2 linked regions of the Homo sapiens genome follow. The protein of the gene in region 1 interacts with the protein of each later gene in a pairwise test. Each region holds a gene or a part of one and is shown on either strand. Other genes may lie near its edges. The genes, in order: TUT4 and CPSF7.

Region 1 (4,218 bases):
TCTGAACCCTAGTTTTTTCATCCGTAAATGAGAGCAACAGTACGTAACTCACAGGGCTATCGTGAAGTGGAGCGTCCCTCTGTGACCTCTAACCAGTCCCAGCCTGAGTCACATTATAAGAAAATTTATAAGGCACTATCTTGTAAATACTTAAGATTTAACATCTTCCCTTCACCTCTACGTCCACTCTTTTCATACCTTTTTCCTGCCTAGCATGTGTCAAACTCAAAGGACTGGGCACAGAGCACAGAGGTTGTGTGCTTTGTCCAGCTTTGAGGTCAGAGATTGGCTAAATAATCTCTGAGGCTGGGGTCTTAAAAAAAAACAACAAAAAACAAAACTAACAAAACCTTAAGTCCGTTCCGCCCGTGACTTTAAATAATTATGTAGAGGAATGTAATACGTTAAAAGCAAGGGGATGAGGGGGCCCATTGATGGTAGATGGTTTTATGCCCGCCTGCAGCTAAAGAAATGATTTCTAAAACCTCTTTTGGGGGTGGGAGATGGAGTGCTCCAGAGATTTCTCTTCGAGCTCCTTCATTCCTGAACTGCCTGCCTTTTCAAAGGAAAAAAGGTCCAGCTGCGGTGGGCTGGAGGCCGTGGTGAGTGGGTGGGGGTCGACCCTGGCGGCTTCCTCTGCCCCGCTCCCTACCGTTGCTCCGAAGCCCGCTTGGGCTTCCGAGGGTCCGCCGAGGCTCGGGCCACGCCCAGTCCGAGTGCCAGGCCAGAGGGTACCCATTCCAGGCCGGCCTTCCTCCCCAGGGGGAGCAGCCTTGGGAGCGAGGCGCCGAGGCGGCCCTCGGGCTCGGCTTCCAGCTCGGGGGCCTCGGCAGAGACTAGGAACCAGACTGGGGCAGCACTGGGGCGCCCGCCACCCCCACCCACTCCGGCAAGCGGGCGAATCAGCGCGGCTAACCCGCGGCGCCCAGGCGGGCTGCGGGACCTCGCGACCTCCGCTCGGCGGCCCCGCCCCTGCCCGCGAGCCCCGGGTGGCTCCCTCCTCCCCTCTGCCAGCGGCCCGCCCCCTCCTCGCGAGCTAACGAGTGTCTCTCGCGCGCTCCCTTCCCTCCGCGTGGGTGTGAGTGCGCGATCCTCCTACCTCGGCCTTCTCCCCATTGTTTCTTCGCGGCCACCACGAGACCCCTCCCCCCAGTGCTGTTTCCCCCCTCCCCCGCCCCGGTGTAAACGGTGCCTGTGGGGCCCCCCGAACGAAGGGAGGGGGCACCCCTGAACCCTTCCCTCTGCGCGTAGCTCCTCCTCTCCCGGGCCAGGACCCCATTACAGGCTCTGTCCTCTCCCCTCCCCCTCTCCCCCGGCAACCGCTCTCCCTCGCCCCCTCCCCTCAGCGGGTCCTCCTCTTTCTCTCCCTCTCCCTCTCCCTCCTCCTCCCCCTCCCCATCCCTTCCCCCCCACAATGCAGTTCGCGGCGCGGCGGACATGGCGGTGGAGTCCTGAGCTAGTCGTGTCCCGGCCTCCAGCGGCGGCAGCGGCGACGGCGGCGGCAGCAGGAGGCGGAGGGAGAGCAGGAGCCACTGAGATGAGGAGGCGTCGCGCGCGCCTGTAGCTCGCGGGCCTCGCAGGTACGAGGTTCCGGCCGCGGGGCAGCGTCGGGTACCGAGGGGGTGTGCTCGGGAAGGCCGGGCGGCCCCCGGTTCGCCCTCCCCAGGTGCCGCGCTTCGCAGGTGTCGGGGGCCTGGCCTGAGAGCGTCTCAGCCGCCCCCTGGGGGCCTGACACTTCTTTCTTTCCTGGAACGGGCTTCGGGTGTCCCAGGGGAAGGCTGAGATAAGGGAGGTGGGGACGGCGGCCTGGGCGGCCTGAGGAGGGCATTGGGGCGCTTTGGGGACGAACTCCACACTGTGGCTGGGGCTCCCGGTCCCGGACCGAAACCTGTTGTAGACCAGCGGGGCGGATTTTGAGTTAACGGGATTGGTTTGAACATTTCTGTTGGGTCCAGTTACGATTCCCTGTCATGTGTACCTTTTTCTTTCACCCTTGCTTAGACATAGGTGACTACATAATGTATATAAATGTATACACGCATATAATACATACTGAATGTTTCCCCGGGCTCGTCCTTGTAGGGAGAAGGCAGAGGTGTCTGTGTGGATTTTGTTTCTTGCTCGCCCGCCTTCTCTCTCCCCCGCCCCCCAGTCGAAAGGTGGTAATGCGCGGTTTTGACGTGGGTAACTGAGATTCGTATTTGTAAACAGATAGCGCTCTCCTAGTGTGTTGCACGCCTCTGCGAAGGGTTTCAGACTCCTGTTGGTATCTGGATTGCGAAAGAATGAGATGTTTAGACCTGAAAGAAGCACATCAGCGGGATTTCTAGTCGTACTTGAATGGGATGAATTACTGTTGTATTAACAACGTTGATTACACATTTTCTTTTCAGAAGATTTCGAAGTCTTAGATGAATTTTGCGTGAGATCTTAGATACCGTATATCTGCTTCTTCATTTTGATAGAAGTAGTAGTTCCTTACACATTTGACCTGCCCTATCGTGATCTTAAATTGTGTCCAGAAATGCAATTCGAATTGTGTATTGTTGGCATGCATTTAGTAATTAGCCCGAGTGGATCAGATGGCCTTTTATTTCCAAAGATTTTTTCCCTCCAGTCTTACAGCAGCGAAATGTTTGTAGCACTTGATGAAACAGAACATATCCTGTTTCTGTTTTTAAAGTAATGAGAACTGTTAGCTAATAAAATTGGATAATCCCAGCCAGATATGATAATTCAGAGAATACCACCGAGAGGTGTTGAATTGTGGGATGGTTTAAAAAGAAAAGCCGACTTTGTGTGTGTGTGTGTATGTGTGTGTGTGCGCGCGCGAGCGCGCTGAAATTTTCTTTAGGCTTAGAACTCATGTATGTCACTACACTGCATCGTAGTACTGATTAGTCACAACTGGTAAAATGAAATATTGATTCTCTTAAAAAGCTGTGCTTAAGATAACTCATTAGTGTCTAGTGTGCTATGTTGCTTTTATAAACAAATTTTTAAAGATTGCTTCTTAGAAACCATATACTTTGGGGAAGATAAGAATTTTAAGTCGTTTTATGCTTTAAAAATATTTATATTTAATATAAACAAAAGAAACTTACTTTTAAAACTCTTAGATAAATTTTTCTGCTGCTTGCAGTTTTTCACTTGGCTAGTGTGGAAAATGAAAAATGAAGTTTTCTTAAAATAATTCAGAAATGGAAGTGAAAGTTAATGACATTTGATGTTTTAAATCCAGCAAACATTTAAATACAGAAAAGAAATTTAAAGTATTTTCATTGTCATAGGCCAAGTTGTTAGTACAGATAAATTAACAAATATTGTCATGCATATAAGTTCAAGTTTATAAATTCTAAGTGACACCTAAAATTACATTTATTTTTAGTTGCTGGAGCTAGAACAGTACAGTGTCTACATTTTAATTTTAGACCTTTTAGAATCAAAATGTATAATTATAAATTTCTCTGATTAACAAAGAGCTGTTTAAAGAGAATTTTTATTAGCTCTCAGCAGATTCATTTTAGAGTAAGTAATTAGAATTCTTTTTTATCTCAAAGTTAATCTTGACATAAAAATAAGTACCATTAATTATGTTGTGTTCTCTACAGAATGTCAAATCAGGATCTGTTGATCAAGAAAGGTGTTTGAATTTATTCACTGTTAAAGTTTCTAGTTTCAGAGAAACAAAATAACCAACACTTACCTGTAGGGCCTGGCCAGGTGGCTCACTCACGCCTGTAATCTCAGCACTTTGGGAAGTGGAGGCGAGAGGATTGCTTGAGCGTAGGAGTTTGATATCAGTCTGAGCAGCATAGTGAGACTTTGTCACTGCCAAAAAATAAAAGAAATTAGCTGGGCGTGGTGGTGTGCGTCTGTAGTCCCAGAAGCTGAGGTAGGAGGTTTGCCTGAGCCCAGAGTTCAAGGTTGCAGTGAGGCACAGTTGCGCCACTGTACTCCAGCCTGGGCGACAGAGTAAGACCCTGTCTTAAACAAAAAAAAAAAAAAAAAAAAGCAATACTTACCTGTTAATGTTGATGCCAGAACATTTTGTTTGACAAAATAGAACTCAATGAGTTGTGTTCCTTTTTCAAATAAATTGCAAATACTTGAATTGATTAAAAAATGTTAAATTCAGTTAAAGCCACTGCAGTAGGATAGAAATACGTTCTAAAAAAGAACAATTCCAGAAAGACCTAAAAAAGTCAAAGGAAAGGG
Region 2 (4,018 bases), on another chromosome or scaffold:
ACCATGCCTGGCCGAGACCCCATCTCTTTAAAAAAAAAAAAACGGTTTATTTAAAAGATTTTGAAAATTAATATGCTTTAGTCAGAGAGGAGAAAGCTGATCTGAAAAATTATCTTTAACAGGTTTAGAGGCTTTGTGGTGGATAATTAACTTCAACGGAAGGGTTTTTTGCTTTTGGAAAAGACTTAGTGACAAGGTTGTTTATTTTGTTGTTGTGTTTTTTGTTTTGTTTTGTTTTGAGACAGAGTCTCACTCTTGCCCAGGCTGGAGTGCAGTGGCGCAATCTCGGCTCACTGCAAACTCCACCTCCCGGGTTCAAGCAATTCTCTGCCTCAGCCTCCCGAGTAGCTGGGATTACAAGCGCCCACCACCACGCCCGGCTAATTTTTGTATTTTCAGTAGAGACGGGGTTTCATCATCTCGGCCAGGCTGGTCTTGAACTCCTGACCTCGTGATCCACCTGACTCGGCCTCCCAAAGTGCTGGGATTACAGGCGTGAGCCACCGCACCCGGCTGTTTTTTTGTTTTGTTTTGTTTTGTTTTTGTTTTTGTTTTTTTAATAGACACATTGTCTCACTCTGTCACCCAGGCTGGAGTGCACTGTCATGAGGCACCATCATGGCTCTGTAACATCAACCTCCTGGGCTCAGGTGATCCTCCTGCCTCAGCCTCCTGAGGGCTAATTTTTAAATTTTTTGTAGAGTCTTGCTTTGTTGCCCAGGCTGGTCTTGAACTCCTGGCCTCAAGTGATCCCCCTGCCTCAGCCTCCCAATGTGCTGTGGGATTATGGGCATGAAGCCACTGCGACTGGCTGTAATTTTCTTTTGAAGCAAAATGAAAGCAGGAAGGTTGGGATAAAAACTCTTAAGTAATGGAGAAGTTCAGTTAAGATTGGTTGGATCCAGGGGCTCTGGCTGTGTCATCCAGACTTTATCTGCATCTCTCAGCTCTGCTTTTCTCTGTTGCTTTCATTCTTAGACAGGCTCCATATTGGTAGGGAGTCAGAGGGGGTGCTGTGTCTTTAGGTTGCATCCTACCAGCTTAGCAATCCCAACTGAAGGAAAACTTCTGGAAAGATTGTTTCTATTATATAAGCATATAGGAGCAGGTGTTGTCTCTGCTTCTATGGAAATCTTTAAAATAGGCCAGAGTGGCTAGGGGTCTGTCTGTAGTTCTTGGAGGCTACTGCGTGACCCAGGTAACTTCAGGGTCCTTTCTTAATTTTGTGGTTGCAGATTTATAAGTCTCTAGGACTTCCCATTTCTCTGTCTCACATCAAGTACATTAGGAAGATGTCCTTGGCCGAGCACGGTGGCTCACACCTGAAATCCCAGCACTTTGGGAGGCCAAGGTGGGTGGATCACGAGGTCAGGAGATTGAGACCGTCCTGGCTAACATGGTGAAACCCCGTCTCTATCCCGACCGAGACCATCCTGGCTAACACGGTGAAACCCCATCTCTACTAAAAATACACACAAAAAAATTAGCCGGGCATGGTGGCAGGTGCCTGTAGTCCCAGCTACTCAGGAGGCTGAGGCAGGAGAATGGCATGAACCCGGGAGGCAGAGCTTGCAGTGAGCCGAGATCGCGCCACTGTACTCCAGCCTGGGCGACAGAGTGAGACTCTGTCTCAAAAAAAAAAAAAAAAAGATGTCCTTGATTATTTGCCTGCTTGATCTAAAGTAATGGTAATTGAAAAGGAAGGTGAGGGGAAAGAATAGTAGTTCTTTTTGGTGTCTTTGGGATGGCGATATCTGGATGAAGAAGGACAAAGAAACTCACCACCTGTGAGCCCCTATAGTTCATGAGCAGTAGCTGGAATGTAAATAGTTGGAAAATTAGCAGTATTTTGCCCAGTGACAACCTACTAAAAACCAAAATACTCCTTTTAGGTTTGGCTACTGCCCTCTGTCTTGTTCTTTGGCCATTAGCTTAAATAGATTTATAGCCAGGAATTGTTTTTATCTTCTCCCAAACAAGTAAGTGGAAAGATGAAAAATTACTAATATTTTTTGTCTCTGTTCTCTGTTGTTAGCCACTCATTTATTCCACAAAATCCTAGAGTGCTTAACATCATTGAAATCTAGGTTAACTCATGTAGAATCAACAGTTAGGCTGTGGGCTCCAGGTACTTCTTTCTAGATTTTGCAACAGGTTGAGTTTGGGGAGATGCCCATGTATCCTCTGGAAAAGCAGACGCTATTGTAGATGGAGACCACAAACAACTTTGGCCTAATTCAGTCTCAGGTGGGCATGAGGGCAGGCATTAGAGTTGGTCTTGGTCCAGTCCTAACTCCCTTTTCTTGTTTGAGTCTGCACAGTTGCTAGTGTTACTTGTGGGTTGAAAAGCACATGTAGGCTACAGTGTATGTCTTTTGGAGCTGACTGGGATAAGAGTGAACAGGAAGGTGATGATTGACCTGTGCAGAGCATGCACTGTCGTCTTTGGGGCTGCATTCAGTTTAGTAGTTAGAACATAAATGCATGTCACCATTCCTGATGGCTTTGCTCCTGACAGCCTTATGACAGGGAAATTACCAGCGAGATCCACTGATCCAGCAGTAGTTTGAGAATTAAACATCTCAACCTGAGTCTTTAGCTGTCACTTTGCATTATTTCTTCCACTTATAAAATGGGGCCAGGCACAGTGGCTCATGCCTGTAACTTCAACACTTTGGGAGGCCGAGAGGGGCAGATCGCTTGAGCTCAGGGACCAGCCTGAGGAACATGGCAAAACACTCGTCTCTACCAGAGATACAAAACTAGCTGGGCATGGTGATGTGCTCCTGTAGTCCCAGCTACTTGGGGGTGCTGAGGCAGGAGGAGTCCCAGCTACTTGGGGGCACTTAGGTGGGAGGATCACTTGAGCCCGGGAGATAGAGGCTGCAGTGAGCCATGTTTGTGCCACTGCACTCCAGCCTGGGCAATAGAGCAAGACCCTGTCTCAAAAAAAATAGTAATAAAAATAAAATAAGATGAGACTATTTCTCCCATTATGAGGATAACTCTCTTTTGGTAACTTTGAAAATGCTGTAACAATATTGCCTAGAAAACAGTCATTTGACTTGTGTAGGCCCATGACAAGATGGGAAAAATTAACTCTGAGGCAGGTTTTCTACTTCCTCACTTTTCCTGGTCACCCGTTTGATATAGTGGTTATTGCATCTGAATAATAGTCTGAAAGAACTGAATCAGGCACCCCAAGAATGTCAATTTCTTACATTCTCACCCTAAGGACTCTTAATTCCATCTGTAGTGACCAAGTTATGGCTTAGGAAGTTTCATGTTGGGAAGATGGTACATGGTCCTCATTTATAGCAACCTTTTAGTTAGAAATGAATCATATTTATATTCTATGATGACAGCTGTTCCCTGAGAGTGAAAGGTACATTTTGTCCAGAGGCAGCAATAGAACAGTAGCCTTCTTTGTCCATCTTTTCTCGGCGTAAGACCCAGTTCTGGGGCCTGAAGGCTAATTGGCCCACTTGAAGGAATCTCTGATTTCTGCCTGCATTCCAACATTGGCACCAAAATGTAGCCATGGAGATTTAAGAATTCAGTGCTATGGCTTGCTTCTCTTGGTGTACAAGTTATCCTCTGCAACCTGTGTCTTCAACTTTTTGTAGTTCTCAACTATGTCAGTTATCTCATTATTTTAGGACATTATCCTACTTGAAATATAGTCATTCTCACGTCATTCCTGTCCTCGTTATCCATTGAAAACTGAGCTTTCTCTTCAATTTGGATCGAATTCAAAGATTCAGAAGCCCTAATGGTATGTAATTGAGTGCACTGAGGGCTTCAGTTTTCCCTTAGAGAAAATGGGACAAATACCAGCCTGCGTAGGTGTTTAGACAGGCCAGGAAGGCTTAGGCCATATAGATTCTGAGGACCCAAGCTGAAAATAGTGTCATTTCGGTGTGTACAAGGATCAGGGAGGACGTAGATGTCTCCTCTAGGTTTTATAAGGCCACTTTACAGAAGTAGTTATATAAAAGGTAAACATTTGTGCGTAGGC

Evidence for each region.
Region 2: the proteins of TUT4 (region 1) and CPSF7 interact in a two-hybrid assay, tested with the Homo sapiens proteins (one large-scale study listed by BioGRID).

Annotation. Positions count from the first base shown.
Region 1 is NC_000001.11:52,550,293-52,554,510, reverse strand, and holds the start of TUT4 (terminal uridylyltransferase 4), read left to right. Parts: upstream 1-1,418; 5' UTR 1,419-1,580; intron 1,581-1,673; exon of another isoform or gene 1,674-2,300; intron 2,301-3,104; exon of another isoform or gene 3,105-3,154; intron 3,155-3,706; exon of another isoform or gene 3,707-3,831; intron 3,832-4,218. UniProt on the Homo sapiens protein: Uridylyltransferase that mediates the terminal uridylation of mRNAs with short (less than 25 nucleotides) poly(A) tails, hence facilitating global mRNA decay. Essential for both oocyte maturation and fertility.
Region 2 is NC_000011.10:61,405,689-61,409,706, reverse strand, and holds part of CPSF7 (cleavage and polyadenylation specificity factor subunit 7), read left to right. Parts: intron 1-4,018.